Regions from separate parts of the Homo sapiens genome. Here regions 1 and 3 are each linked to region 2. Evidence: fine-mapped expression QTL. A gene starts in region 2. Each other region holds a variant in brackets. All regions are shown on one strand. Distances are between the middles of the regions.

Region 1 (8,599 bases), 41 kb before region 2:
GGCCCCAAGACGCCTCTGAGCCCAGGCACACTCTCTGGAGGGAGGCGCAGGCCCAGCAACCAACTGTGGTGGTCCTGGGGGAAGTGCTGCGAGGCGGCGGGTTCTTAGCCCCTGGGGACCGGCGCAGGTGGTGCCTGGGCCGAGAGTGGGGAGGAGAGAGGGGATCTGTTGCTCTGGGCAGCCCCTCTGTCTCCCAGGCAGGCTCTCTAGGTGCCCACTTGGCATCCTTCCTCCCTCGTCACAGTGGTGATCACAGGGGGCTGGAAACCTTGGTGGCTTCTCAGTTTCCCTGGCACACAAGTAGGCCCCAGCCGCCCCTTCCTCCAGCTTCATCTTGAAAGCTGAGCTTTCTCTCTGAGCTGTCGTTTTCTAGTCCCAAGGCCACTGTCTTTCCTAGGTGTTTTGCCTATTAATTGAGAACTAAGCCTGATACAGCTTCGCAGTTTACTCTGGAATATTTAACTAAGGCATCAGGGCAGGTGACCAGAGGCCTCAGGAGAGTCCCCAGAGGGTCCTGACCTTGGAAGCCAGGCCCCACGGGGGAAACCACACTGGTGCTCCAGCGTCCCGGGGCACCCGAGCAGAGACTGTGCAGAGAGAAGGGTGGGTGAGGACTGAGGCTCAGCGTGGCTGGAGGGGCCAGGCAGACGGTGGAGTTGGGGGCCGTTGGCAGTGCCCTGAGGAGGCCGTCTGCTCCACTGAGGCAAGGCGGGGCTTCCCTGTGAGCCCACATCAGTGTCCTGCACTGTGTGTGCCCTGAGGCTTCCCTCTGCCAGCAGGTGATGGTGATGGCGCCCACACACCAGACATCCTGGGCTCCTGCTTGCAGGGGTCCCTCCTCGTCCTGTGCAAGGAGCAGCACACCTCAGTGTCACCAGAACTTGTGGGGGTGGGGAGCGTTTCCCGTAATCACAACTTTCAGTGGCTTCACAGTTAGAACTTCGAAGCTGGGGTGTCCGTGAGTGCTGCTGTTTTCCGTTTGGGGTCACGATGCAGCCGGACCTAATTTGTGACATGGCTGCATGTCACCTGGCGCTGGCCCTGGAGGGGGACATGGGTGGTGGAGTTGCCCTCGCCTGCTGGGAAGCTCCCTCTGCCTCAGAGAAGGATGTGACCGGCCAGCCTCTCCCTGCGGCCTGGGGTTCTGAGCATGCGCCTGGCCTCCTGGCGGGGCTCTAGTCCTGAGGGTGGAAGGCTCCAGGCTTCTGCCTCTGCTCCATGACCCCCAGAACCCTAAGTTGTGGCTGAAGGTGCCTGCTCTTAGGAAACGGGTGAATTCTGTCCCGTTGCCATCTGGGTGAGGGAGGAAGCTGCTGGTTAGCCTGCAGCGTGACACACGTCCTGTTTTCCGTAACCAAATTGTAATCACTACAAAACCAGCTCCTCCGCAGTGGCCTGGGGAAGGGGCCTGGGCTTGGGAAGGGGTCTGGACCTGGGGAGGGGATGTGGGCCTGGGGAAGGGGTGTGGGCCTGGGAAAGGGTTGCTCCTGGGAAGGGTCTGTGCCTGGGAAGGGGTGTGCGCATGGGAAGGGTCTGCGCCTGGGAAGGGGTGTGGGCTGCCGTGCTTGGCCCTGTTTGTCAGTGCTCCTCCCAGATGTCTGATGCTACTGCATCCAGCCCCACCAGTAGGCACACGCTCTGTGTTCCCGGGTCCCCGTCCCCAGCTCTCAGGGATGCACTGCGGTCTGGTCCAGCCTCCTTTGGGCACTCACCTGTGGGACCCCTGAATTCCTCTCCATCCATTACTGCCCAGCCAGCCAGGCCTCCTACAGGTGTCTCCCCTTAAAAGAAGTTTCCAGTCAGGTTTGGTAGCTCATGCTTGTAATCCCAGGATTTTGGGAAACCAAGGTGGGAGGATCACTTGAGGTCAAGAGTTTGAGACCAGCGTGGGCAACATAGTGAAACTGTCTCTACAAAAACTAAAAAAACAAAACAAGAAAAAACCCCAAAATACAAAAATTAGCTGGGCATGGTGGTGGGCGCCTGTAATCCCAGCTACTTGGGAGACTGAGGCATGAGAATCGCTTGAACCCGGGAGGTGGAGGTTGCAGTGAGCCAAGATCGTGCCATTACACTCCAGCCTGGGCGACAGGAGCGAAACTCTGTCTTGTCTTCAAAAAAACAAACAAAGAAAACAAAAAATAAGAAAACATTAGCTAGGCGTGGTGGCGCATGTCTGTGGTCCCGCCTATTTGGGAGGCTGAGGTGGGAGGATTCCTTGAGTCCGAGAGGTTGAGGCTGCAGTGAGCCGTGATGGTGCCCCTGCGCTTTAGCCTGGGTGACAGAGTGAGACTTCTTTTTTTTTCTTTTTGAGATGGAGTGTCTCTCTTGTTGCCCAGGCTGGAGTGCAATGGCGCAATCTCATCTCACTGCAGCCTCCGCCTCCCGGGTTCAAGCGATTTTCCTGCCTCAGCCTCCCAAGTAGCTGGTATTACAGGCATGTGCCACCATGCCCGGCTAATTTTTGTGTTTTTAGTAGAGACGGGGTTTCGCCATGTTGGCCAGGCTGGTCTCAAACTCCTGACCTCAGGTGATCCACCCGCCTTGGCCTCCGAAGGTGCTGGGATTACAGGCGTGAGCCACCACGCCCGGCCAGACCCTGTCTCTTAAAAAAAGGAAGTTTCACAGCAGCAACAGAAAGTCTCCAGTTAAAAAAAAATTTTTTTTTGACAGAGTCTTGGCTCACTGCAACCTCCATCTCCTGGGTTCAAGCAGTTCTCCTGCCTCAGCCTCCCGAGTAGCTGGGACTACAGGAGCACACCACCATGCCTGGCTAATTTTTTTTTTGTATGTTTTAGTAGAGACGGGGTTTCGCCCTGTTGGCCAGGCTGGTCTTGAACTTCTGACCTCAAGTGACCCACCCACATCGGCCTCCCAAAATGCCGAGATTACTGTCATGAGCCACTGAGCCCGCCCCCAGTTAAGTTGAATGAGCACGTGAATATTAAAGGTTATTGCTTTCTCATGTTGGAAGAATCCTGGTGTGAAATGGACAGTGCTGTGCTGGGTCTTTCAGGACATGGAGGGCCCCTGGCCCGCCTTTCTGTCTGTTCGGCGGTATGGGGTGTTGCTGGCTTTGTCGGAGCTCAGAGGTGCCCCTGCGGCCTCTGGCCCTGCTCTGGCTCTGGTGGAACCGCAGGTCCTCCCTTGCTGTACACAGGGGGGCAGTCTTGGCCAGGCCCCACAAGACCTGGCCCCTTCCACATGTCAGTTCCAGCTAACGGGAACTAGCACATATTTTTTGTTATAGAAACACGCTATGGAAAATACCAAATGTTTTTAGAAGTAGAGGGCATCCTGGCAGTTTCAGCCAGAGGTGGCACTTTCCTCTTTCATCCTCCCTGTGGGTTAGTGTTCTGAGGTTTCACACTGTCCACATGTGTCCTGTGTGTGTGTGCCTGCAAGTGTGCACGCACCAGGGTGTGAGGCAAGCAGAAGCCAGGAGGCGCTTCCAGAGCAGGTGCAGCAGCGTGGCCCCAGGGAGGGTGACTGTGGTGTTGGGGGACAGGGAGAACAACACAGGGACAGGAAACAGAGGTCCTGGGGTGTGAGGAGGGTATGGGAGGCTGGAGGGTGCAAGACAGAGTGATGGAGGAGGGAGGGCAGAGGTGGCAGGTGGAGCGTGGAGCTGCTGACGCATGCAGCTTTGCAGTGTGCTGTGGTGCAAGCTGATGGGTATGGGTCAAGGAGTGAAGAGATTGCGTAAAACACAACCAGAATCGAAATCATCACTGTAATTTAACGTGGCATCTCACTGTGGCCCTGTTCTGTCAGAAGCACGCCTGCAGCCCACTGTACCTAGGCAGGGAAACGTGGCTATAATGGAGGCTGTACGGCGTCCCCTGTTCTTGGAAGGTGGGGCTTCAGGGGCTTTTTATTTATTTGTTTTTGAGATGGAGTTTCGCTCTTGTTGCCCAGGCTGGAGTGCAATGGCGCGATCTCGGCTCACCACAACCTCTGCCTCCCAGGTTCAAGTGATTCTCCCGCTTCAGCCTCCTGAGTAGCTGGGATTACAGGCATGTGCCACCATGCCTGGGTAATTTCATATTTTTAGTAGACACGGGGTTTCTCCTTGTTGGTTAGGCTGGTCTCGAACTCCCAACCTCAGGTGATCCAACCGCATCGGCCTCCCAAAGTGCTGGGGTTATAGGCGTGAGCCACTGCACCCAGCTGGCTTTTTATACTTTGATCATTGTCCTTTTTCTAATGTAGTGTTATATGAGTTATTTATTAAAAGCATTATATACACTAATTAGAATATAGTGAGATTTTTCTTTTTCTAAAGTGAAAGTTGGTGAGGGAGCATGTGCTGGAGACCAGCATGCCAGGGGCTACACAGAATGGTGATCTTAATTCGAACGCTTAGAAAAAACAGGCGGGGCGTGGTGGCTCACGCCTGTAATCCCAGCACTTTGGGAGGCCGAGGTGGGTGGATCACTTGAGGTCGGGAATTCAAGGCCAGCCTGGCCAACGTGGTGAAACCTCATCTCTAGTAAAAATACAAAAATCAGCTGGGCGTGGTGGCACGCACCTGTAGTTCCAGCTACTCAGGAGGCTGAAGCAGGAGAATTGCTTGAATCCGGGAGGCGGAGGTTGCAGTGAGCCGAGATCGCACCACTACACTCCAGCCTGGGCGATAGAGCGAGACTCCGTCTCAAAAAAAAAAAGAATACACACTGCTCACAAAACAAAGAACTCTGAGGGAGGGTCGGAGTTGCAGGCACCTGGAGCTCAGCCTGGGGAGGCCTGGGCCAGATTTCTGCAGAATTTAGAATTGGCTCATCAGTGCTGCTCAAAGCCCCCTTATTCCAGGATGGGTCTCTCCTGAGTCCTGCGTTTCTCCCTGGCCTCTCTTCTGGATTCTCATATCAGCAGGCACCTCACTGTGGCCCTGCCAGGTCCTCTCCAGCCCCCACAAGGAGACACCACTGCGACCTGCTCCAGCTTCTGTTTAGTTTATTATTTGTTCAGACAGGTTCTCACCGTGTTGCTCAGGCTGGAGTGCAGAGGTGCATCACAGCTCACTGCAGCCTCCACCTTCTGGACTCAAACGATCTGCCTGCCTCAGCCACCTGAGTAGCTGGGACCACAGGCATGCCCTACCATACCCCGCTCATTTTTTTTTTGTAGAGATGGGATCTTGCTATGTTGTCCAGGCTGGTCTTGAACTCCTGGGCTCAAGCAGTCTTCCTGCCTCAGCCTCTCAAAGTGCTGTGATTACAGATGTGAGCCACTATGCCTGGCCTGTTCTAGCTTCTTTTTTTTTTTTTTTTTGAGACAGGGTCTTGCTCTGTCACCCAGGCTGGAGTGCAGTGGCACGATCTCAGCTCATTGCAGCCTCGACCTCCCGGGCTCTAGTGATCCTCCAACCTCAGCCTCCTGAGTAGTAGGACCACAAGCAGGTGCCACCACACCCAGCTAATTTTTTTCAGTTTTTTTTTGTAGAAATGGGTCTCCCCCCATCCTGGCTAACACAGTGAAACCCCGTCTCTACTAAAAACACAAAAAATTAGCCGGGCGTGGTTGCAGGCACCTGTAGTCCCAGCTACTCGGGAGGCTGAGGCAGGAGAATGGCATGAACCCAGGAGGCAGAGCTTGCAGTGAGCCAAGATCACGCCACTGCACTCCAGCCTGGGTGACAGAGCGAAACTCTGTTTCAAAAAAAAAAAAAAGAAAGAAAGAAAGAAAGAAATGGGTCTCCCCGTGTTGCCCAGGCTGGTATTGAACTCCTGGGTTGGGCGATCTTCCTGCTCCGGCCTCCCAAAGTGTTGGGACCACAGGTGTGAGCCACCATGCCCGGCCACCACTCCAGCTTCTTTTTTACTTTATTTTATTTTTATTTTTATTTTTATTTTTTTGAGACGGAGTCTTGCTCTGTCACCCAGGCTGGAGTGCAGTGGCACCATCTCTGCTCACTGCAACCTCCACCTCCTGGGTTCAAGCGATTCTCCTGCCTCAGCCTCCTGAGTAGCTGGGATCACAGGCACCCGCCACCACGCCTGGCTAATTTTGTATTTTTAGTAGAGACAGAGTTTCACCATGTTCGCCAAGATGGTCTCGATCTCCTGACCTCGTGATCCACCCACCTCGGCCTCCCAAAGTGCCGGGATTACAAGCGTGAGCCACCGCGCCCGGACCTTCTACAGCTTCTTGAAAGCCAC[T/G]AGGTTTGTGGCAATTTTTATGGCAGCCACAGAAAACTAGTACATAGATCCCAGTTGTGACAACCTAGGTAGTCTCCAGGCACTGCCCCCGTCCCGGCACCACCTTTGTTGGAGGCCTGTGCTCAGTGCTGGTGCCCTGCTGCTGCTGCCGGCCACCCCTGTGGCCACGTTACCCACCAGGAGGCCGGCTCTGGGCCTCAGCCTGAAGGAGGCCCGGGCTTTGCCTCTGCTGCCACCAGGAAAAGCTGAGTGCCACCTGACCCTGTTCAGCTCTGAGTTTCCGGACGGGCCCAGTAGCTGCCCCTTGCTCTCTTCAAAACTTTTCTTGGCTGCTCTAATTCCTTTTTGCTTCCAACTGAACTTTAGAATCATTTTACTGGAGTCTTTAAAGAGTGTTGTTAGTATTTGTTTGGGATTCAGTTACATTCATTGTGAAGCCAGAGGCCGTGCCTGTTCTGCCTTGTCTGTGCTGGTGGCTGCCCCTGGATGACGCTGAGGTCCCTGCCTCATGGTTTCCCTGGAGGGCCTGGCCCCAGGCTCCAGCGATTGGCTTTCTGCTTCTGCATCCTATCCTTCCAGTGTCCTCCGACAGGCCCTACACACTTGCCTTCCCCCAAGTGGCCAAGGTTGTCTGCGCGTCCCGATTGCAGCAGCCTCCAGTCCTGTGTCTGTGCTTTGTCACAAATGCACTGGCCCCTGTGCCAACCACTGAGGGCCGACGCTGCGGGGCGGGGGGCACTTTCCAGCTCTCCCCATCTTTGGGCATGCCTGGGGCCTCACCTTACTGTTCTCGTTGGAAGATCAGGCCGCAGCGTTTGGGTTGGTGAACCTGGTGAACAATCCACATGTCCACCATGCTCATTGGGAGATCAGGCTGCAGCGATCGGGCTGGTGAACCTGGTGAACAATCCAAATGTCCACCTGATGTTTCCAGAGGTACCAGGGCCAGGTCTTAACCCCGAAGCCCTGCAGGGCAGAATGTGGTGGACGTCGTAGGCATGCTGTCAGTTGGCAGAGCTTCGGAGTAGAGTGTCCAGCAGGTTCAGCTGCAGCCTCCCCATGGGTGGGTGGACTGAGGCGTGGGGGCCTTCTGCAGACTGGCTGGTTGCAGTGCCTTGGGGCACATGGGATGGTACCTGCGTCCCCTGCAGTCCAGCAGGGAGGTGGATGTGTTCACATGTGGTCACCATGCAGGAGTGATATCTGAGTGGGCTGGCCTGGGGCAAGGGGGACGGCCAGCCCATGCTGTGTGTGCACCACTTGCAGAGGTTTGGAGGTACATCTGTGTTCTCGCCCGGCAGCCATTTGACAGCGTCCACTCTGGACTTGCAGTGTGTTAGGGACATGGTTAGAAAATGCAGAAAGTGCCTGTAATCCCAGCCGGGCGTGGTGGCGGGCACCTATAGTCCCAGCTACTTGGAAGGCTGAGGCAGGAGAATGGCGTGAACCCAGGAGGCGGAGCTTGCAGTGAGTGGAGATGGGACCACTGCACTCCAGCCTGGGCAACAGAGGGAGACTCCGTCTCAAAAAAAAAAAGAAAATGCGGAAAGTGCAGTTGGCCCACCCTCAACCCTGCTGGCTGGGCAGAGTGAGAGATGCTTCCCCCACTGGGGTTCCTGGCTCAGTGACGGAGGTGCGGGGGGCCGACCTGCTGCTTCCCCCATGAGTGCTGACCCCCGCTTTGTTCTCACTTTGTGTCTGTGGATGTTAGGAAAGGGTTGTAAATGCAGATCTCCAAGTTTTGGCTGATCTGTCTTTTTTTGTGTTTCCAGGTGCTGGCAAAACCCCGACTCTGGGTGGCGGCTTCCACGTGAATCTGGGGAAGGAGTCGAGAGCGCAGACCCTGCAGAATGGTATTTCCCACCGCGGATGCTGCTGAGCGTGCGGCGGGTCCCAGAGATGGGGATGGTGGTGCTAGGGTGGAGGGCACTGACTCAGCCATGGACCTCATGGCCTGCCACTTCCTCGTCACCCTGCACGCCCAGCCCAGGCTGCTTTCCAGGAGGAATTGTGCCCTGAGTCCCCTCCTGGGTGTCCTGCAGACTCTGCCAGGGCTGTTTGGGGAGAACCCAGTGGATCCCACAGGATCCACAGCCATTGCTTGATGGCCTCAGTGAGATGGAGGCAGAAATAACACATTTATAGCAGTTGGATATTGTAGTGACATTCTCACTGCGTTTTGTCAAAGTGCCAGTTCACCACAAACTGGAGAAATGTCTGCTGGGTTATTTGTCTTATGATTGAGTTGAAAAAGTTCTTTATGTGTTTTAGGTACAAGTCTTTTATCGGATGTGTGATTTTATATATTTTAGGTGCAAGTCGTTTATCGGATGTGTGATTTTATGTGTTTTAGGTACAAGTCTTTTATCGGATGTGTGATTTATAGGACATTTTCAGCCATTTCATGCGTTCTTTTCATTTTCTTTTGTCTTTTTATT
Region 2 (11,024 bases):
ATAATCCCAGCTACTTAGGAGGGTGAGACAGGAGAATCGCTTGAACCCTTGAGGTGGAGGTTGCAGTGAGTCACGATTGCGCCATTGCACTCCAGCCTGGGCAACAAGAGTGAAACTCTGTCTCAAGAAAACAAACAAAAAACTGCGGCCAGGTGCGGTGGCTCACTCCTGTAATCCCAGCACTTTGGGAGGCCGAGGCGGGCAGATCAGGAGGTCTGGAGATCGAGACCATCCTGTCTAACGCGGTGAAACTCCATCTCTACTAAAAACACAAAAAAATTAGCTGGGCGTGGTGGTGGGCGCCTGTAGTCCTGACTACTCAGGAGGCTGAGGCAGGAGAATGACGTGAACCCGGGAGGCAGAGCTTGCAGTGAGCAGAGATTGCACCACTGCACTCCAGCCTGGGCGACAGAGCAAGACTCCGTCTCAAAAACAAACAAACTAAAACAAAAAAACTGCACGCGTTTTGCACACATGGCTTTTTAAACGTGAGTTTCCATGTAAAGGCCCTTTGGAGATTCCTCACTTGCAGTGTTCAGGTCTCATTGATCCCTGTGTCTCTGGGACACAAGGTTGGGGGGTGTGGAGTTTGAGGTGGGCAGGCAGAGGCCAGCAGCAGATCATGGTTCTGCTGTGGCTTAAAGAGAGATGGTGGGATCAGGACGATCAAGATGCAGGGGCCTGGCAGGAACCCAGCACAGGGGCTGGGGCACTCATACATGACATGCGTGAGTCACACCTAGACACACTGTATGCGTGTGTACACACATGCATGTCTGCACACTGCATGCGGATGCACACACACACTACATGTGCTGACACGCCCCCCAGTTTGGTGAGCAGACCCCAGGGATCCCTGGAACCCCCAGAAACTGTGAGGAGGGGAAATTCCTTCAGAAGGCACACTCTGTGAGCCACCAGCCCTTGTGATGGAGCCCTCGGATATAATGGAGAAGATGGAAGCTGCGCCCCACTGGGGTGGATGGTGACCAGGAGGAGCTGCTGTGGGGGCCCAGCCCTCCCAGCGGGCAGGGTCCCTGATCAGAGGCATCCCCCACAAGCGCTGCCTCTGGCTCTTGCCTCTGTCTCTTGCCTCTAGCGCAGACAGGACCCTTTGTGTGCGGTCCCTTAGGTCTCCCAGTACCCTGGAGTCAGCAAGCACCTGGAAGTGCCACTGGCGGGCCAGGACAAGGGGACTTGTCTAAGGGCCCACGAGCCGGGCTTGGTCAGGCGAGGGAATTCTTTGGGGGAGGCTAGTGGCAGAGGGTCAGACTGGCCAAGCCTGTGAGGCCCGGGGGCCCCAGGGGCAAGCCTGGGATGAAGACAGCCAAGTGTGGGCAGGGCTCTTGCAGGCTCCAGTAGGGACCAGGCTATTCCCGCTGTGCACCTCATCCACACCTGCCAGCAGACATTGCTCTGAAGTGTCCTCCCCCAGCCAGCAGGGCTCCTTAGGGGTACTCGGCCCACGGCAGGGCTGTGCACAGGGTCTGCACACAGGCTAGAGTCCTTGTTTTGCTGAGGACAAGCAGCGGTGCTCCCATCACTGCCAGCCCTCGGCGTTGCCCTTCTCGGTCTGGGCCTCACCTCCACTGCCCTATGGCAGATAGCCGAGGCAGGGGTGACAGGATCTGTGTGGATTTGGACCTAAGGTAGGAACAGTGTGGGGGGCAGGGGAGTCACTGAGGAACACAGATCTCAGTCCCAGCAAGGGGGCTGAGGCCAAGACCCCTGGGCCCATCGGAATCTGGGCTGGAGGTGTGGCTGGTGGGAGCACATGTGGACAGAACTGGTTTTGTGTTCATGGGTGTGCAGTTGTGAATGAAATGCTGCGTGCACCGTGTGATGACGCCCTGGGAGGAACCTTGCAGTCAGGTTTTCTTCTAAGCAGATGCCATCATTGGCGAGACGGCAGCACGGCCTAAAGCAGCGGCTTAGAGGAAGAAGGCAGGGCCCTGGGAGCCCCAGCAGCCAAGGGAGGCCAGCCAGGCTTGCGGGTGTGGGGTGGCTGCTCCACGGGCCATCGGAGTCTTTAAAGACTGCACAAGAGATGCATTTTAAGAGAAAAAAAGCAAACATTTCCTTAAATACCAATGCTGTTTCTGGTTGTGATCTCTCCATCTCAGGTGAATGTGTACGTGCTTGGAAAGACGTTTCTTCTCTTGGCAAGAGAGCTCTGCATCAATGCGCCGGCCATAGGTAGGCATCTGGGTGAGATGCTGGGGTGTCCGGCAGGCTGCTGTAGGGACCAGCGTGCCAAATGTCCTTTGAACAGTGGAGGGAAATCCTGTCCAAGCATGGGACCCCTCAAGGTAAGAAATGTTTCTTAAAGCTGCTAGGAGCTCAGTAATGTGGGGCCTTATTTTCTAAGACACAGTCTCGCTGTTGTCCAGGCTGGAGTGCAGTGGCACAATCGTAGCTCACTGCAGCCTCAAACTCCTGGCCTCAAGTGATCCTCGTGCCTTCGCCTCCCAAAGCACTGGGATTACAGGCATGAGACCGCACCTGGCCTGGGGCTTGCTTTCTGCTGCAAAACCAGAAGGCCTGTTGTCAGTGCCTGTCAGGTGGCAGGAAGGTGTAGACAGGGAAACAAGTGCTGCGTGCTGGGAGCATCTTGTGTGGACAAGGTTTAAGGGACACACCTGGCTCCAGGTGCCTCTGGACAGATGGGGACAGTGGGGCAGCTCCTGGTTGTGCTTTCCAGCCACAGCCCTCTTTTGTGGTTTTTCTGCCACTTTTGTTCTGTGTTGTGTGCGAGTTTGTGGAACTCCTGTATGCCTTTCTTGATGTGTGTTAGGTGTAGGGTAAGTCCTGTCTCTCCCTCGAGGCAGCAGCAGTGTTCATGCATGCAGAATCTAACCTAGCGGAAAAGTCTAGAAGGAAAGGATCAAAACAGCACTCACTGCCCGATGGTTCTGACCTACCCTTTCTTTACCAAGCAGATGACTGGTTTCCATGGCCCGCTTAGAGGCCCCTTTCTTACTTTGCCTGTTTGCATCTAGGAGCGTATGTCCTTTGGGTAGAGAAGCACCAGGTGGGGCTGGGTCACCAACAGGACTGAGCAACACGGGCTGCAGCAGCAGAGGGGCACCGGCTGAGGCTATACACTCGGCCCATGCCCTCTCCCAGGTGCCAAGAGGGGCCATCCCTCTTTTCGGGGGTCATACAGGTTTTCCAGAAAACAACTGCCTACAGGGTATGCAGAGTGGGAGGAGAGAGACAAGGGGTGGGAGAGCCTGTTTCACCCTATAGTCCACTCCTGCAACAGGCTGTCCCGCAGCAGTGTCACAGCTAGTGACAGTCCCCAGGGTCCAGAACGCTGGGCCCAGCAGAATGCTCCCCCGACAGTCTGTTCATAGGGTAGGACTCTGAGGTGCTAGTGATGCATTAGGACATAGAGACAACCAGGCACCTGGTGTTTCCTAGGGTGGCCCAGAAGCCAGCCAGCAACCCAGGGGACAGATGGGCTTCACTGGGGCGCAGTTTGCTCCTAACCACATAGCATGTTCAGCATGACAGGTTTTCTCCTCGGGATGGGAGGGAGCTGTTCTGTTGCATGAGAAAGAGAATACCCCACTGTACAACTGCTGTAGTCATTTACTGACACGTGGGTGTTATTTTAGGCAACCTTTATTACAGAAGTCCACTATTTTAAGTGACTTTTTGCCAATTTTAGATTTGAAGGGAAGGTCTCAAGTTAAGCTTGGAACCACTTAGAATCCAAGAGGGTAGCAGGAAGATCCAACCCCTCAAAGCAGGTGGCATGGGTGCCACTGGGAGGGGATCTGGGGCCTGTCTTGAGCCGTAAATCTTCCTCCACCTGAGACGTGCACCCCACTGTACCAGAGATGCCTAAGACTCCAATCCCTGGGTTCTGGCTGTGTGGAAAATGTCTCTACACAGTCAAGCTTCAGCTGACTACATGTCAAAGAGAGACAAAGTTAAGAGCAGCCTTTCATGGTGTCAAGAAGCAGTTAGCATCTTGACTTCCCCTCCACTCACTCGCTGACCTGCTGCAGCCTCCCCGGGCACCTCAGGCATAGAAAATGAGCTCAGGGATCTGCCCACCCTGGACCCCAGTCCCGTTGGTGCTGTCCGAGGAGCACTGGAACTGGAAGGCCACCTTTCCACACTGCACTTCCGTCATCCCCTCCTGCCCAAAGTAGCTGAGTTCGCTGCCGTCCAGGACGGCACTGGCCGTGTAGAAGGTGTCTTGTTCAACCTGGACCGGGTGTTCAAACCAGACCGGGAAGGTGTTACTGGATCCGTCTGACATGAACTTGGTCAAGTTCTGAGCCAGAACCACCCCGAGCCGCTTGAGCTCAATCTTCACGCTGTACTCAGCCTTCCCAGAGCTGGAGCCATACAGGCCCAGCCCTGCAATAAATACCCTTCTGTCCACTGCAAACTGGATGCTGTCGCAGCGCCCGCGGTACCGCCACTGGTTGCTGCGGTAGGCAGAAGACTGGAATCGGTGGCACCTCTGCGGGGCGAGGCCCTTCCTCTTGGTCAGGGGAAAGTCCAGGCGGGGCTTGTTGGTGGCCGTGTACCACAGGAAGATGCTGTGGGTCTCCTCCAGAGTCAGGATGTCTGACTGGGCAGCGCCGTTGGCAAACTCCTCTAGGGTCATGGTTGGAATTCGGACCAGATAGAGGGCTCGCCCCAGAACATGCCTCTTGTTTCGTGGGGTGATTGGCAGCCCCTGCCTCTTGCACTCCGCCTCGGCCCAGTTCAGGACGGCCTCGAAGACCACCGCCTCTTTGGTGTTGAGGGCCTCCCGAGTGACAATGATCTCCAGCGTCTGCCGGTCTATCTCACAGAAGCCTTCGGACCGTAGGGCCATCTCGGCCTGTGCGTCAATGACCTCCCAGCAGCGCTGCGTCAGCTCGGGCTCCTCAAACAGCCGGCTCTGGGACAGCAGGACGCAGGCGTTCTTGGCTTCCAAACTTGTCTCCAGAAAGTTGACACAGGCTTTTGCCAATGCTGGGACGATGTACTTCTTAGCAGCGTACAGAGTGGCCAGCACCGTGTCGGCTTCCAGATCGATCTCATCACTGTACATGTACCTAGGCGAGGCAGGGCCCGCGTCAGGGGCTGGCTCCCAAGCACCCATCGCGGGGCTGGGCCTGGGAGAGGAGTCCATCAGCTCCTGTGTGCTTCCCTTCAGAAGCCTCCGGAGGCCGCCTAAAACGGACCCACCCGTCCCTCCCCAGTAGAGTGGACTTACTTTAAGAGGATCAGAAAGGCTGCGGGCTCCACGTCTGGAATGTGAATTTCAGATTTGACTTCCGCCAGGTCTCCGTAGAACATGGCATAGAAGACGGAGCTGCCGACAGCCAAGACGTACTGGGAGGAGAAAGCGCCGCCGTGAGCCTGGCTCTCCCGCAGGCTGCGTGTCAGCCACACGGCGGACGGGGCGGACGGGGCACGCGTTCCGAGAGGGGCCGCCGCTACCCACCTTGTGGGCGGGCACCGTCCTGGTCGCCCCCGGGGGCCCCACGACGAAGTGCACGTCGGCCATGAGCTCGTTGTTGAACATGAGCGCGTTCCTGCAAAGGTAGAGGCACGGGCTGGGGGCGTGGGCGCGCGCGGGCGCGGGGGCCGCGGGGCACGGGCTCACCTCTCGCGCAGCGTGGGGCGGCAGCACCGCCAGCCGGGGCTCTCCTGGTGGTTGTTGCCGAGTGTGGGCGGCGCGGGCGCGGGCGGCGGCGGCGCTGGCGCGGGGGCGCTGGGCGGGCTGCGCGGCCCGGCCTTCCTGCCCACGGCGGCGCCGGCGTTGCTGTTGGCTAGGTCCGCGGCCGCGGCGCTGGCGGGAGCGTAGAGTTCCGCCGCCATCTTCGCGGGCGGGGCGGCGGGGGCAGCCTCGGCGCCTGTGGACGCCGCGCCCCGCGCCCTCGCGCCGCGCCGGGGCCTCGGGAGCGGCTCTGCAAGCAAAAGCAAGGAGGTCAGGCACTGAGCGACGCGGCCGTGCAGGCAGGCTAGGGGCAGCAGCATGGGCGGCGGCGGCGCTGTGACCCGCGGGGCTGCCACCCGCTCCCCTGCCACCCCCGCCCCTGCGACCCTGCCCGAGCCCAGCCTAGCGCAGCCCGGCCAGGCCCGGCCGCGGGGGGCGCCGTCCCGCCCGCCCGCCCGCCCGAGCCCGTACCCGCCGCGGCGCCGGTGCGTCACGCTGCGTCAGGGCCGCGCCCCGCGCGACGTCGCTGCCTCGCGGCCCCGCCCCCAGGCCCGACATCCTCGAAGCTGCTCGAGCTTCTGCCCAGCAACCGGCGCGAGCCGCGCGCTGTGCAGAGGTAGCCGTGGAAGGCGGCTCCCGGCGCTGGCAGGCGGCCGCCCCCAGACCCGCAGTGCCATGCGCAGGTGCTTGCGCCCGTTCTTCAGTTAGCGATCTTTTGGTTAGGAACGCAGGTGGACCTGCTTGTTTGGCCATTTGCATTCCGGAGTCTGCCTCTGGCCGCGGCCTGTGGGATGGTCGTTGGGCTTCCTCGTTCGTTCAGATGCTTCGCGATTTAGCTTGCTACGGACGCCAGCAGCCAGCGCTTGCAGAGAGCGCGGTCCACTCTGCTCTGAGGGCTTTACAGGGGCAGGCGCTGCTATTTCCCGGCATTTTCCTCGAGGAAATAGGCACAGAGAGGTTAGTCGCGCGCTGAAGGTCACACAGCCGGCGGGTGGGCAAGTCAGGATCTGGCCCTGGGCCTGCAGCCCTGGAGCTTGGGCCCCAGGGCGCGCCCTGCCTCTGTGGCTCTGCCTGTGGATCGCAGTCGCAGGCTCGCTCCTTGTGGGGCCTCTAGCCTCCCGGCCTGGGGCTAATCCTGGGAGGTGCGTGGCATGGGGCACTGGCTTTGCTGATGAGGAGACCAGACTTCAGAGGCCGTGTCACCTGGCCTGGGCCGCACAGCTGGTGCATGCCAAGCTCGCGTGCAGACGAAGCTCCAGAGGCCTGGCTGTCAGGAGGGTTCCTCCCCGAGGACACACACGCAACCTCCTGGACCGCCAGGCTTTAGACTTTTAAAACTTCCATATGCAGGAAACCCCACAGGACGCAGCCAGCATCTCGGGTCATGGGTGCACCTGTCACCGCAGTCCTGGGCTAAACAGTGAACAGGAGCTCTGTGTCTCTGTGGTCGTTACAGTTGTAGTGAATGTTCCCTGGGAGAGTCCTCTTCAGAAGATATTTGCGGTATTTTCAACAAAGGACTCTCCAGGATGGAGGAGCAACTACAAGTCAGGAAGGAAAAGGCTGACAACCCAGTTTTTTAAAAAACGGGCAAAGGACGTGAACAGACACCATGCAATGGCCCAGAGTGCACAAATCATCATTTCTCCCAGGAATGGGGTGCCCGAGCCCCCAGGCGGCTGAACTTGAGACTTGTCACGTAGTGTTGGTGGAATGCAGAGCAGCTGGAGATCACCTGCTGCAGGTGGGTGCGTAACTCCGCACGGCCAAGCCGTTTGGAAAGCTGTAGCATATGCATGAGAGTCCGGAAAGTTCCGAGAGAAAGTGTGTGGATGCACCCGCCAAGGACACACCCACCGAGGCCACAGCTGCGATTTCATAGTGTGGGACCCCACTGGCAAAGACACGCTGGCTGCTGTGGCCGTGGTTTCTGTCCCAGCCGTCTGTTTCCATAGAAAAAGGTAACGGGCATAAGCAGTTTCCAGGAGAAATACAAATGGCCAGAGTGGAGACAGCCTACATGTCCATCAGCAACAGAAAGGATCAGCAGGTTGTGGTGGGTCCATTTGGGGAATGCAGTGAGAAGGAATAACTTACAGCAGCACACAAGACCTGGGCGACAGCTGTCTCCGGGGGTGCCAGGATAGAATTGCTGAGCCGCCAGAGGTAGTCAGCGTCTTGATCTGCATGGTGGTGTGGAGCATGTGAATAATAATTTTCATCCTTAGAAAGAAACCACCCTTTGCACTTTGATTTTTAAATATGTTACAGTGTAGGTTGGGCGCGGTGGCTCACGCCTGTAATCCCAGCACTTTGGGAGGCCAAGGTGGGCGGATCACTTGAGGTCAGGAGTTTGAGACCAGCCTGGCCAACATGGTGAAACCCCATCTCTACTAAAAATACAAAAATTAACGGGCACCTGTAATCCCAGCTATTCGGGAGGCCAAGGAAGGAGAATGGCTCGAACCAGGGAGGCGGAGGTTGCAGTGAGCTGAGATCATGCTACTGCACTCCAGCCTGGATGACAGAGCGAGACTCCGTTGACCAGGCTGGTCTTAAACTCCTGGCCTCAAGTGATCTACCTGCCTAGGCCTCCCAAAGTGCTGGGATTACAGGTGTGAGCCACCGCGCCCAGCCTATTCTTTTTTGTTTGTGATAATGGTCATCCTAATGGACATGAGGTAGTGTCATGTGGTTTTGATTTGCATGTCCCTGATAAATAATGATGTTGACCATCTACTCATGTGCTTGTTGGCTATTTGCATGGCGTGTTTGGAGAAACGTCTGTTCAAGGGCTTTGCCTTTTTTTTTTGAGACAGAGTCTTACTCCGTTGCCCAGGCTGGAGTGCGGTGGTGAGGGTGCACTGCAACATCCGCCTTCCAGGTTCAAGCGATTCTTGTGCCTCAGCCTCCCAAAGAGCTGGGATTACAAAAGTGCAGTTTGCCCATTTTTAATCGATTTTGTTCCTGAGTTGGAGTTTTTTGTATATTCAGGCTGTTAACCCCTTATGAGATAGATGGTTTGCACATAGTCTCTTCCATTCTATAGGATATCATTTCTGTTAATAGATTCCTTTGCTGTGCAGAAACTTTTTAGTTTGAGGTCATCCCATTTGTCTATTTTTACTTTCGTTGCCCTTGCTGTTGGTGTCATGTTCAAGAAATCATTGCCAAGACCAATGTCGTGAAGTCTTTCCCTTTGTTTTCTTCTAAGGGTTTTACAGTTTCAAGTCTGTGTTTGGGTCTTGCATCGGTTTTGAGTTAGTTTTTGTGTATGATGTAAGGTAAGGGTCTATCTTTATTTGCAAGTGGATATCCAGTTTTCCCAGCGCTGCATATTGAAGAGACCATCCTTTCCCCATTGTGCAAGAAGTTCTTGTCACCCTTGTTGAAGGTCATCTGTCTGTCATTGTCATTTCTGGCCCTGTGCTGTCCTGTCCTGTCCTGTCCTGTCCTGTTCTGTTCTGTTGGTCTGTAGGTCTGTCTTTATGTCAGCACCATACTGGCTGTTGGACTTTTTAATTCTTTTCTTGACAGTGGTAATTTATTTGCTTCTTTTTCTTATTAGTCCCTTTGCCTACTTTAAATAATTAATTTTGTTAATTTTTAGTTTTCTGTTATTTTAGTTCATTAATTTCATTGCTTCCTTTATTTATTTATTTATTTTTTTTGAGATGGAGTCTTGCTCTGTCACTCAGGCTGGAGTGCAGTGGCACGATCTCAGCTCACTGCAACCTCCACCTCCCAGGTTCAAGTGATTCTCCTGTCTCAGTCTCCTGAGTAGCTGGGATTACAGGCACTTGCCACCATGCCCGGCTAATTTTTTGTATTTTTTAGTAGAGACGGGGTTTCGCTGTGTTGCCCGGGCTGGTTTCAAACTTCTGAGCTCAGGCAATCCACCTGCCTCGGCCTCCCAAAGTGCTAGGATTACAGGTGTGAGCCACCACGCCTGACCCATTGCTGCCTTAAATACACAAAGCGCTTGAGTTAATAAAGTTACCTGAAGGATTGAACTTTAATTTCTAACAGCGTTTGGAGGTGAGGGGACTACTTGTTTTTGCTCATTTTTAGTTTTTTTTTTTTTGCACTTGGGGTCAAATGGCATGTCCTATGTGCTGTTACCTGAAATATATTGAGGGTTTCTTTGTTCTATCATACCTGGTCATTTTCATAACTGTCCCACAGACACTGGAGAAGCATGATGACTCCATGGGGTACAGAATTTAGAACATCCTTGTCAGATTGAGTCTATGGTGATGTGTCTTAAGTCGTCCCTTAGTCTTTTTTTTCCTAATCAGTCTGTCAAATTTCAGAGAACCATGTTAAAATCCCCTATTATTGTGGTTTTGAAGGTTGTTTCCAGTGTTTTTCCTTCATTTAATTCTTCCTCTGTCGCTGTGCGCCTGCAGATTCCAGGCTGCTTGACATGGGTTCCTTTCCATGATGAAATGCCATGCCTGTCCCGTGCCGCTCTGCCACTCCGCGTTTGCCCACCGTGCCGCCGCTGCCCACCACTTCCTCCTCCACCCTAGTCACTGACAGATTTGTCTTGAAAAAAACACTTTTTGCTTGTCTTTTTTGTTTTTTGTTTTGAGACATGGTGTCAGTCACCTAGGCTAGAATGCAGTGGCAAGGTCATGGCTCAATGCAGCCCCGACCTCCTGGACTCAAGCAATCCTCCCACCTCAGCCTCCCAAGTAGCTGAGACAACAGGTATGCATCACTACACTAGGCTAAATTTTTCATTTTTTGTAAAGATGGGGGTCTCACTATATTGCCTAGGCTGGTTTCAAACTCCTGGGCTCAAGCGATCCTCCTGCCTTGGCCTCCCAAAGTTCTGGGACTCACAGGTGTGAGCCACTGCATCCGGCCCCAGATTTTTGTTTTAAGAGATGGGGTCTTGCTGTGTTTCCCAGGCTGACCTCGAACTCCCGGGCTCAAGCAATCCTCCCACCTCGGCCTTCCAAGTAGCTAGGAATGTAGGTATGAGCCACTCTGCCTGGCTTGTCTTGAATTTTTTGTTTGTTTGTTTGAGATGGAGTCTCGCTCTGTCGCCTAGGCTGGAGTACAGTGGCGCAGTCTTGGTTCATTGCAACCTCCACCTCCCGGGTTCAAGCAAATTCTCCTGTTTCAGCCTCCTTAGTACCTGGGATGACTACAGGCGCACACCACCACCCCCAGCTAATTTTTGTATCTTTAGTAGAGATGGGGTTTCACTATATTGGCCAGGCTGGTCTTGAATTCCTGACGTCAGGTGATCCACCCTCCTCGGCCTCCCAAAGTGCTGGGATTACAGGTGTGAGCCACTGTGCCCAGCCGTTGATATATTTACCAGTGTTTTTGAAATGAGTTT
Region 3 (11,024 bases), 73 kb before region 2:
ATCATGTTGCTAATTAAAGAAACCTCCAAAACCTTCGATAGCCCACCAGAGTCAGGTGCAGTCCAAGAGCCTGGCCAGCTGTCCTCTGCCCCTGCCACATCCTCCCCAGGCAAGTACAGTGAGCAAGCGGCAGAGGCATGAGATGCACCACCCTGCCCCCAGCACAGGCTCCGAGCGCTAGCGGCAGACACCTGCTGTGATTCCTGGCCCCGCCCCCAGCACCATTTGACAGGACCACGGCAGGAGAACAACTCCACCCCAGCCCCCTGTCACCACTTGCCGAGGGTCTGAGAAGCAAGAGGATGGTGCAGGAGCTATCCACGGGAGCCAAGGTCCCCGCCCCTCAGGCCCACGATCCCCAGTGCTCAGGCAGTCAGCGCAGCAGGCAGTAGCGGCAGGCACTGACCTGGCCGCGCACATCCCCTCAGGCTACCACCACTGCAGCCTCTCGACCTTCCTGGACCCCTCCCCAAGGCCTGCCCTCCTTCCCCCTCGCTTCTGAGGCTCGCTCTGTGTGGCCAGGTCAGGCACGCCGGCCTCCCAGCTGGTGAGATACCCCTTGGCCCTGTGGCCTTGCAGCTGTTCTTCACGCCCAAAGCTGACACCTCCCGCAGGAGACAGCGACGCTGGACCTGATAGGTGCTGTATTTATAAACATAAGCCACGCTCAGCTCCGTTTCCAGCTGAAGCCATAGCCAGGCGAGCCAAGAGTGCGTCGATTCGGGTGTAGTGACTTAACTTTCCAAGGCGCGACAACCTTTACGTCCAGCTAGGTGGGAAAAACAGGAAGTCCAGGGCCAAGCTGGAAACTGCAGGAGCCGAAGGAACAGCAGGACTGACTGCAAGGGGCAGGCTGGCGGTGACTGGAGGCCACCCAGGGCACCACAGCAGCTCCCACCAGGAGGAACAGTAGAGTCCTGGCCGCAGGGTGAACGTGGAGCTCATAGCAGAAAGCACGCTCAGGCCAGGAGAGCCCAGACCTCAGGGTGGGTCTTCACGGCCAGAGCTCCCGCTCCCCTCCCTGGCTAGGCCACACCCCAGGCTTGAGGTGGGGGAGGAAGGAGAGCCCTAGGCCAGACCGAGGGGCCTCATGACCTGACACTTGGGTGGCACACAGGCAGCCCGAGAATGTGGAAGGGCCACCCTCCCGGGCCCCACCACGGAGCACCTTCTAGAGGCACCGGCGGGCACTGCCTGAAGCCTGAGCCGCCATCCCTCTCCTTGGTGCTCAGAGGAACGAACAGCCCAATTCAGCACCGCACCAGGAAGGCCTGGCCCCGAGGGACTGCCTGCTAGCAGGGCATCGGCCTCCTGCCACTCACCCTCCTGAGGCGCTCCTGGGGCGACTGGGAAGATGCAGGATGTCTGGTATGTCCACCCTCAAACTGACCAGGAGCGAGCTCATACGGAAGCCTCAACTCCACTGCTGCTGCGGAGCCCCCGCCCCACCCGTGTCCAGGACCAGGAAGCAGGTGCGGGTCTCAACTCCACTGCTGCGGGGGAGCCCCCGCCCCACCTGTATCCAGGACCAGGGAGGCGGGCGCTGGTCTCGAGGCGGCCCTGGAGACACCTGCACGAGCCCAGCATGCAATGCCCATGAAAAGTCTTGCCCAATTATTTTGCATCTAAAAAGAGGGAAGTCCTGGCTGGGGCCATACAATAAAGAAATATTGTCAATGCCTCCTGCAAGGTCAGCTACAGAATTACACTGGGAAATGAGACTCAAATTAAACAAAAGATGCTGGTGGCATCCTAGCTGTCAACTGGTCCCTGGTCACCTCTGTCCTGATGCAGATGTGGGACTCCCAGAAGGTTGGAGAGTAAACAAAGGCATGGAGGAGGGGCCCAGCAGAGGGGCCAAGCTCGCAGGACAGCAGCCCAAGGTCAGGGCCCTTCCCATCAGCATTGGCTTGGTGCCGTTCCCCGTGCTCACCAGAACAAGAACAGCATTTGAGAAGAGGGATGTGCATCTGCAGGTCTGCCTCGCTGTGGATCCACATCCTGGCCTGCCAGGGAAGGGACAGTGCTGGTCACCCCCACAATGGCCATCTCCCCAAGATGAAAGGCATCCTGGGGAAGGCTGAAGGGAGGCTGGACTGCATGGCCACTTTGCTGCCCAGCTCAAGACACACCTGGCTCCTGGGGCTGCTGAGCTGAGCTGCCTGTGCGTGGCGGCTGCTGCCAGCTGCTCTTAGGACACGGGCTGGATGGGGCAGTCGAGAGACAGAAATGCGAGACACAGCATTGCACCGAGCGAGCTGACCACCTGGGCCTCAAGCCCGTGGATCCCAAACTCCTCTGCCAAGCAAGGCCCAGGATGTTGGCCCGAAAGGTTGTGCAAGGGCTGCATGGGGACTGAAGGCCCTTCCAAGTCCCCTCCCCTGCTCCAGCTCACCCCACCTTGTCTCAGGACTCAGGGGTCATTAGAACCCATCTGTCTCCTTGCTGAACCCCTGAAGAGAGCCGCTACCCTGAAGCAAACCCTCCCCCAGCCCCACCCCACCCCGAGCCACAGCACTGACCCCTCCACAACCACTGTGTCCGAGCCCCCCCCCGTCCCACCACCCTACGACGGTGCCCTCAGGGCTGGGACACAGGCGAAGAGCCAGCTGGAGTGTCTCTGCACTTGGCCAGGTGCTGCCTGTGTCCGGGGGCAGGGGGTGCCCACAGCTTGGCCAGGGGGTGCTGAGGAAAGGCTGGTTGGGGCAGTGGAGCGGAACAGCCAGGCCCAGAGCGGGTTGCTCAGCCCCAGGCCCGTGTGCACCCCCAGCAGGAAGGGCAGACCCACCCCTTCCCCAGTGTCTTCCCTTGCCCATTTCTGCCCCTTTTGGGTCCTGACTCCTCTGTTGAGCGGCATCTGCACCCCAGGGGACCCAGCATGGCCCCTGACCATGCAGAGGACCTGGGGCTACGGCCATGAATGTCCCGGGCCTGAGAGCAGCCCAGCAGTAGCCAGTGCTCCCTGGGGCTCCTGGAGAGCCTGCCCCCCATCCGTGGGGTGAGACGGGGCGCCACCGGCCTCCACAGGCCGGAGCCCTCGAGGAGCTGCTGACGACCCCAGCACCATGACCAGCAGCCACGCTCTCATCACTCTCACAACCCTGCTAAGTCGGCCTGAGCTGAGCACACATCGGCGCGCGCCTGCGGAGCAGAAAGGGACGGCCTCTCAGCGCTCGGCTATTTTTAGGGCTGCCTCTCAGAGCAGCTGCTGAGCCAGCCAGGCCCAGCCACCCTGCGGGGCCAGCAGCTCACAGGCCTCAGGGCTGCCCTCAGCGGGAGCCTGTCCTACAGAGACCCTCCACGGCCAGGCAGGAATAAGCACGCCACACCCTGCCCCCTGGTCCTGGGGAAAGCACTGTACAACCTCCATCCTGCCACCCCTTCCCACCTGCACCTGAGCACCCTGTCTCGGCAACGCCACTGCCTGCCACCACCACACACAAGTCACAGGGTCCAAAGAGACCCCCGTCACTGTGACTGACCGCAGACCCGCTCTCTGCAGCAGCCCCCCGACCCCGCCACAGCACCGCAGCTGCCCACTCCATCAAACCTTCCTGAGACGCATGCTGAGAATGCTGGGCAGAGAGAGGGAAAGGGCTGGTTCTAGTGCCCAGATCCAAGGAAAGCATCCTTTAGTCCAAGGGCACTGTAGCCCCCTGCCCTCCATCTCCTGCACAAAAGCCAGTCCCCAGCAGGAGACCCACTGACATGTGACTCCAGTGTTGACAGCAGGACAGAGCTGCCAGAGGTTTCCAGGCATCTTGAAAGCAGGGCACAGCCTGCGCGGACAGAGCGGTGTGCACGCACCGTGCAGGCCACGGCGATGGGCCAGGTCCTCCGAATCCCCAAGGCCTCCAGGGCTACGGGCACCGTCCTGCTGCCCCTTGGCCCCAGCTCGAGTGCTGCCCAGCCTACAGGCCACTGGCTGCCCAGGTCAGCTTCCTCAGCCCCTCCCTCAGAGCAGCCCATCTTCCCTGGATCACTGCAGACCACCTCCGAAAGCCCTGTCCCAAGCCCTGCACGACACCTCCCACCCATCTCCACCTGCACACCCTGAGGCAATCTCCACCTCCAGTGTGGTCCACCACTCCAGCAGCACTGCTCTCCCAAATACACACACTTGAAATAGTCCAGCGACTTCCCCACCACTCAAAATGAAACCACACTCCTTGGCATGACATCCTGGTTCCATTACAGGAACGTCCGCCAAGGAGCTACACTGTGCAGGCTCTGGGCAGCACCGAGCAAGGCAGACAGGGTCCCGCCGTGAGAGTCTCGTGCAGGCTGGCAGCGGTCAGTAGGCAACATGCGTCCTGAGGAGACGCCCCTGCACGTGGACAGAGGCAGGGGGAAGGGCTGGAGACAGGCTACTGCCCCAGCCAGCCGCCGCCCACTGACACCACCCAGTGCATCTATGGATGTGGAGGATCCGGCAGGAAGAGCAACACGTCCAATTGTTGCTCCAGAGGTGAGAGAGAGAATAGCGCAGAACCAACAGCAGAAGAAAAAGTGGCTGAGAGCTTCCCGGGACTCATGAAAATCATCGATCCACAAAGTCAGCAAGTCTAGTAACCCCGACTCAGGCAATCACAAGAGAACCCACACCAGGACCCACCATGAGACGACCGTTGGCAACGATGACATGACCACAAAGCCACCCAGACGTCTCCCTCCAGCCTGTCACGGCCGCTGACCTCTTACAGCAAAGCTGGAAGTCAAAGCCAGGGACGCCCTGCCTGGACCTGTGGGAGGAGCACACACCACCCCAGCATCGTACAACCAGCACACGCCCTGCTCAGGGTGAGGGTAAACTAAAACATCTTCAGACAAACAGAAAGAGAAGGTAGTTATCAGCAGATCCTCACTAAAGGAAATCCTAAGAACAAATATTCAACAGAAGAAGGAAAATGATTCCTGACATGCAAGAAGAATGAGCAACAAAGGAAGTGGTGAGTTTTGAAGCTCATCAAATATCACAGTATAAA[G/A]CAGTAACAACATCTTGTGGGCTTCACAAGAAAACAATTAAGATACACAGTAACAAAATCATATAAATATAAACATGAAAGGGTTGGATTAGAATAAAGTGGGCTAAGGTCCCTGCATAGTTCAGCAGGAGAGTAAAGATACAATTAACTATGCACATTAAAATGTACAGGGTAGGCTGGGCGTGGTGGCTTATGCCTGTAATCCCAGCACTTTGGGAGGCCGAGGCGGGCAGATCATTTGAGGTCAGGAGTTCGAGACCAGTCTGGCCAACATGGTGAAACCCCGTCTCTACTAAAAATACAAAAAAATGAGCCGGGTGCGGTGGCGCGCACCTGTAGTTCCAGCTACTCGGGAGGCTGAGGCACAAGAATCACTTGACCTGGGAGGTGGAGGTTGCAGTGAGCCAAGATTGCGCCACTGCATTCCACCCTGGGCAACAGAGCAAGACTCCATCTCAAAAGAGAGAGACTCCGTCTCAAAAAATAAAAAATAAAAATAAAAAAAGGCCGGGCACAGAGGCTCAGCCTGTAATCCCAGCACTTTGGGAGGCCAAGGCGGGCGGATCACGAGGTCGAGAGTTCGAGACCAGCCTGGCCAACATGGTGAAACCCCGTCTCTACTAAAAATACAAAAATTAACTGGGCGTGGTGGCAGGCGCCTGTAGTCCCAGCTACTCGGGAGGCTGAGGCAGGAGAATCGCTTGAACCCGGGAGGAGAGGTTGCAGTGAGCCAAGATTGCACGACTGTACTCCAGCCTGGCGACACAGCGAGACTCTGTCTCAAAAAAAAAAAAGTCAGAAAAGGTCAGAGTGAATGAAAATGAAATCTAGATACATGCTGAATAACCAAAGACACATCTAATATGTAAGGATATACAAAGGTTTTTAAAAAGGATAGAAAAATAGCTAACAGGCAAAAATTATCCAAAAGAATGCTTGCATCAAAGTCAATACTAAAGACAAAAAGCATTACTAGATATAAAAGCAGTCATACAATGAGAAAAGTTCAAAATACCTAGAATTACAATTCTAAACATGTATGTACCTAATAACATAGCCTCAAAAATATATTAAGTGACGGGGCGTTAGTGGTTCATGCCTATAATCCCAGCACTTTGGGAGGCTGAGGCAGGTAGACTGCTTGAGCCCAAGAATTCAAGATCAGCCCGAGCAACATGGAAAAACCCAGTCTCTACAAAAAATACAAAATTTAGCCAGGTGTGGTGGTGCACACCTGTAGTCCCAGCTACTCGGGAAGCTGAGGTGGGAGGATCGATTAAGCCTGGGAGTTCAAGGCTACAGTGAGCTGTGATCGTCCCACTACACTCCAGCCTAGGTGACAGAGTGAGATCCTGTCTGGAAAAAAAAAAAGTATCAAACAGAAACTGACAGAACTGTTAGAAAACCCGGACCAATCTATTCTCAGATTATAAGATTTTAACATACATTTCTAGTAGACAAAAAAAGGGAACGGACTTGAAGACCACAGTAAACCAAGCTTGATCTAATAGACAAACACTGCACCATCAACTGCCAAACACACATTCCTTTTAAGTATAAACAGAACGTGCATTAAAATTGACACACTGACCCAGAAAGCAGGTTCAAAAAAAAATGTTTTTGCAGTGGCGCCATCTGGGCTCACTGCAACCTCCGCCTCCCAAGTTCAAGTGATTCTCCTGCTTCAGCCTCCTGAGTAGCTGGAATTACAGGTGCGTGCCACCACGCCTGGCTAATTTTTGTATGTTTAGTAGAGATGGGATTTCACTACGTTGCCCAGGCTGGTCTCGAACTCCTAACCTCCGGTAATCCACCCACCTCAGCCTCCCAAAGTGCTGGGATTACAGGTGTGAACCACCAGGCCCGGCCAGTCAGGTTATTTTATAAGTGAATTATCCCAAACATTCAAGGAAGAAATGATTCCAATTTTACATAAGCTATACCACGATACAGCAAAAGAGGCAGTACTCATTTCATTTCACAAGGAAATCTTAGCGCCAAAATCTGCTAAGGACTACAGAAGAAAGGAAGCACATAGACCCCAGACACACATGCAGAAGTCCTAAACAAGATACTATCATCTAAACCCACCAATGTGGGCAGGTAGGGAGGCTCACACCTGGAGTCCCAGCTCTTTGAGAGGCCAAGGTGAGAGGATCACTTGAGGCCAGGAGTTGGAGACCAGCCTGAGCAACATAGTGAGACCCCATCTCTACAAAAAATTTAAAATTAGCCAGGCCAGTGGCATGCACCTGTAGTCTCAGCTACTCAGGAGGCTGAGGCAGGAGGATTGCTTGAGCCATGGTCACACCACTGCACTCCAGCCTAGGCAAAAGAGCAAGACCCTGTCTCAAAAAATAAATACATAAATAAATATATATCCACCAATTTTTAAAAAGGGTAATACAACATGCTTAAACTAGTATTTTTCCAGGAATAGGTTAATGTTAGAAAATCAATTTACGGCCAGGCATGGTGGCTCACGCCTGTAATCCCAGCACTTTGGGAGGCTGAGGTGGACGGATAACAAGGTCAGGAGATCGAGACCCTCCTGGCCAACACGGTGAAACCCCGTCTCTACTAAAAATACAAAAATTCGCTGGGCGTGGTGGTGCACACCTGTAGTCCCAGCTACTTGGGAGGCTGAGGCAGGGGAATTGCTTGAACCTGGGAGGCAGAGGTTGCAGTGAGCTGAGATCACGCCACTGCACTCCAGCCTGGTAACAGAGCGAGACTCTGTCTCAAAAAGAAAAGAAAAGAAATAAAATCAATTTATGTAATTTACCACAATAGTAATGAAAAGATAAAAATTATATAATCCTCTTAATGAAAGTACTTGATTATATTCAACATCCACTCATAATGATTTCTTTAAAAAGCCTTTGCAAGTCATGAATAGGATGAGACTTTTTAAGTGCATAAAGGCTATCCACAAAAAGTTGCAGCAAACATCGTCCTTAAAGGTAAAACACTGGAAACCTTCCTTAAGGTCAAGACAGAACACGGGTAATCCACGCAACCAACCATATTCAACACTGTACTATGACAACTGGCACAGTCAGGCAAGAGAAAGAAAGAAAAGTATGAGGATTGAAAAGAAACAACTTTGTCTTTTGCAAAAGACAAAACATACATTTTGAAAATACAAAATAATCTATAGATAAGTTACTAGGTTAAAAATAGTAAAATCACTGATTTCTTTGAAAAATCAACTGAATTTCTATATGTTAGCAACAAACATAATAAAAAGCTGACTTTTACTATGACTTCTAAAATACAAGCATCTAGGAATAAATGTAACAAAGGATATGCATGACAGCAGAATCTTGTAAAACTCTCAAAATACATTCAAGACCTAAGTAAATAGCTTGATCATGAATGAGAAGACTCAGTACCACACAAACGTCAATTCTCCCCAACCTGCTCTACAGAGTTAAAGAACTTCCAATTATAAACCAAATGTGGCTTTGTGTGAAACTTAAAAAGATAATTCTGGCTGGGCGTGGTGGCTCACGCCTGTAATCCCAGCACTTTCAGAGGCCAAGGCGGGCGGATCACGAGGTCAAGAGATCGAGACCATCCTGGCCAACATGGTGAAACCCTGTCTCTACTAAAAATACAGAAATTAGCTGGGCGTGGTGGTGCACGCCTGTAGTCCCAACTACTCAGGAGGCTGAGGCAGGAGAATTGCTTGAACCCGGGAAGTGGAGGTTGTAGTGAGCTGAGATCGTGCCACTGCACTCCAGCCTGGGCGACAGAGCTTCTCAAAAAAATAAAATAGGCAGGGCGTGGTGGCTCACGCCTGTAATCCCAACACTTTGGGAGGCTGAGGCGGGCGGATCACGAGGTCAGAAAATTGAGACCATCCTGGCTAACACGGTGAAACCCCATCTCTACTAAAAATATAAAAAAAATTAGCCGGGCGTGGTGGCGGGCGCCTGTAGTCCCAGCTACTCGGGAGGCTGAGGCAGGAGAATGGTGTGAACCCAGGAGGCGGAGCTTGCAGTGAGCCGAGACAGCACCACTGCACTCCAGCCTGGGTGACAGAGCGAGACTCCATCTCAAAATAAAATAAAATAAAATAAAAATAAATAAATAAATAAATAAAATAAAAATACAAAAATTAGCCGGGCATGCTGGCAGGCGCCTGTAGTCCTAGCTACTTGGGAGGCTGAGGCAGGAAAATCGAAACAGGGAGGCGGAGGTTGCAGTGAGCCGAGATTGCACCACTGCACTCCAGCCTGGTGACAGAGTGAGACTCTGTCTCAAAAAAACAAAACAAAACAAAAAAATTAGACAGACATGGTGGTGTACACCTGTAGTCCCAGCTGCTCAGGAAGCTGATGTGGGAGGACTGCTTGAGCCCAGGTTTTAGGGGTTACAATGAGCCATGATCAAGCCACTGCACCCCAGTCTGGGCCACAAAGTGAGGCTCTGTCTCTAAAAACCAAACAGATGGCCAGGCCCAGGGGCTCATACCTGTAATCTCAGCACTTCGGGAGGCCGAGGTGAGAGGATCACTTGAGCCCAGGAGTTCAAGACCAGTCTGGGCAACATAGGGAGACCCTGTCTCTGCAACAACAACAACAAAATACATAAATAAAAACAAATTAATAAACATCAACCGAAAAAACAATCAAGTGGGAAGGGCAAGGTACAAAGCAGCCCAGCCCTTGCTGAAGAGCAGGTGGGGGCGCTCAGGGACATGGGCACCAGGAGGACACTCTGGGAACCCAGGAGGCAGAGGCCACAGACAGGCACTGACGCATACCCCGTGGACCACCTAGGAGCACCGTGTGTAACAGTGCTGAGCCAAAAGCGTCGCAAGGAAACCCGGAGCACAGGCCTCCCCAACAACAGCCCAGCATGCCCAGTTCAAGCTCCCGGGGGCAGACTTCTCCGGCTGCCTCCCAGAAGGAGAACCGAAACGAGACCAGCACCCCAGCCTGGCAAACAGTCAATGTGCACACTCCACCAGGCTGACACGGGGAGTGCACCCAGAGGCTGCTCAGAGAGCAAAGACTCGCTCATAACTGGACGGGGACATCCTCAACACAGCCGAGAAAGGATGACTATCTCTAAAGAAACTGCTGAAACTCAAGCAGAAAAAAAGAGAAAAAAAAACTGGCAAAGGAACAGGAATTTCACTGACAAGGAAGTACAAATGGCCTAAATTAGTAATCAGAGAAATTCAAGTTAAAACCACGATACCACTTCACACCCACCAGACTGGCAAAAATTAAGTCAAATGAGTGTTGGCACAAATGTGGAGCAGTGGGGACTCTCGTCCCTGTCAGTGGGGGCCGGAGCAGGCACAACCACTCTGGAAAACTGCCCAGCAGTAACGCTGAGTGCGTGCACACCCCCACCATAAATCCTGGTAGCTGGCGGTACATGCTTAAGACAGGCCCTGCCCATCCAGAAAGACACACGCAGAAGACTGGCACACGATGTCCACAGCAGCACGGGGCTTGTAATTAACCAAAAAACTGGAAACAAGCCAAGGTCCCTTGACAGAAGCAAAGCCGAGGTACTGTCACGCCAGTGAATAGTACGCAGCAGTGAACACGCCGAAAGGCATCAGCACACACGCAGCCCAGAAGCTTCATGGCTGGGCAAAAGTGAGGAGTACAGAAGAACTCAGGAGGAACAAAGCAAAACTAAGTAGCAGACTGTCCGAGGATGCACGGACAGGCGGCACAAGCACAAAGCAAAGCTAGGGGCAAGCCCGCCTATGAGGGGCCCTGTTCCAGGACAGGTAAGGGCAGGAGCTCATTATGAGGCTGAGCATGTCCTACGAACAAACTGCATCTGCCCACCTGGTCAGCTGCGCCACTCGCCCCTCCGCCCATTAACTCCTCCGCCCATTAACTCCACACCAACAGAACAAATCCTGTCCTCCTGCCTACCCTTCCTCCCAACCCTGTCCAGGCCAGAGCTCGGGACCCCCCCCAGCACTTAGTGCTACCCAGCCCAGGTGCCCCCATCTACCCCCGCCTGTCCTAACCAGGCTTCTCGAAACCCGCCCTACCCATACCC

The links. PIP is the estimated chance that this variant, and not a neighbour inherited with it, causes the effect.
Region 1: its variant is the best candidate, but not a certain one, in a credible set for the expression of BTBD6 in whole blood (TOPMed, PIP 0.61).
Region 3: its variant is the best candidate, but not a certain one, in a credible set for the expression of BTBD6 in whole blood (TOPMed, PIP 0.89).

Annotation. Positions count from the first base shown.
Region 1 is chr14:105,285,711-105,294,309 of GRCh38, reverse strand. It overlaps BRF1 (BRF1 general transcription factor IIIB subunit), which reads left to right. Exons shown (of 18, transcript NM_001519.4): 2 at 7,934-8,014. Among named protein-coding and RNA genes, the nearest start is that of BRF1, 11 kb to the left of the region's middle. RefSeq lists enhancers at 48-177, 818-937, 1,088-1,237, 7,489-8,387. The variant T/G (reference allele first, on the strand shown) is at 6,162.
Region 2 is chr14:105,243,679-105,254,702 of GRCh38, reverse strand. BTBD6 (BTB domain containing 6) reads right to left here and starts at 6,170. Exons shown (of 4, transcript NM_001387567.1): 1 at 5,618-6,170; 2 at 5,456-5,546; 3 at 5,225-5,343; 4 at 3,610-5,063. The coding sequence starts at 5,991. The coding sequence ends at 4,031. It overlaps BRF1 (BRF1 general transcription factor IIIB subunit), which reads left to right. Exons shown (of 18, transcript NM_001519.4): 5 at 2,124-2,196. RefSeq lists enhancers at 4,173-4,962, 5,754-6,544 and silencers at 5,569-5,618, 5,819-6,378.
Region 3 is chr14:105,316,701-105,327,724 of GRCh38, reverse strand. All of the region lies in intron 1 of PACS2 (phosphofurin acidic cluster sorting protein 2), which reads right to left. Among named protein-coding and RNA genes, the nearest start is that of PACS2, 7.5 kb to the right of the region's middle. RefSeq lists an enhancer at 4,296-4,805. The variant G/A (reference allele first, on the strand shown) is at 4,986.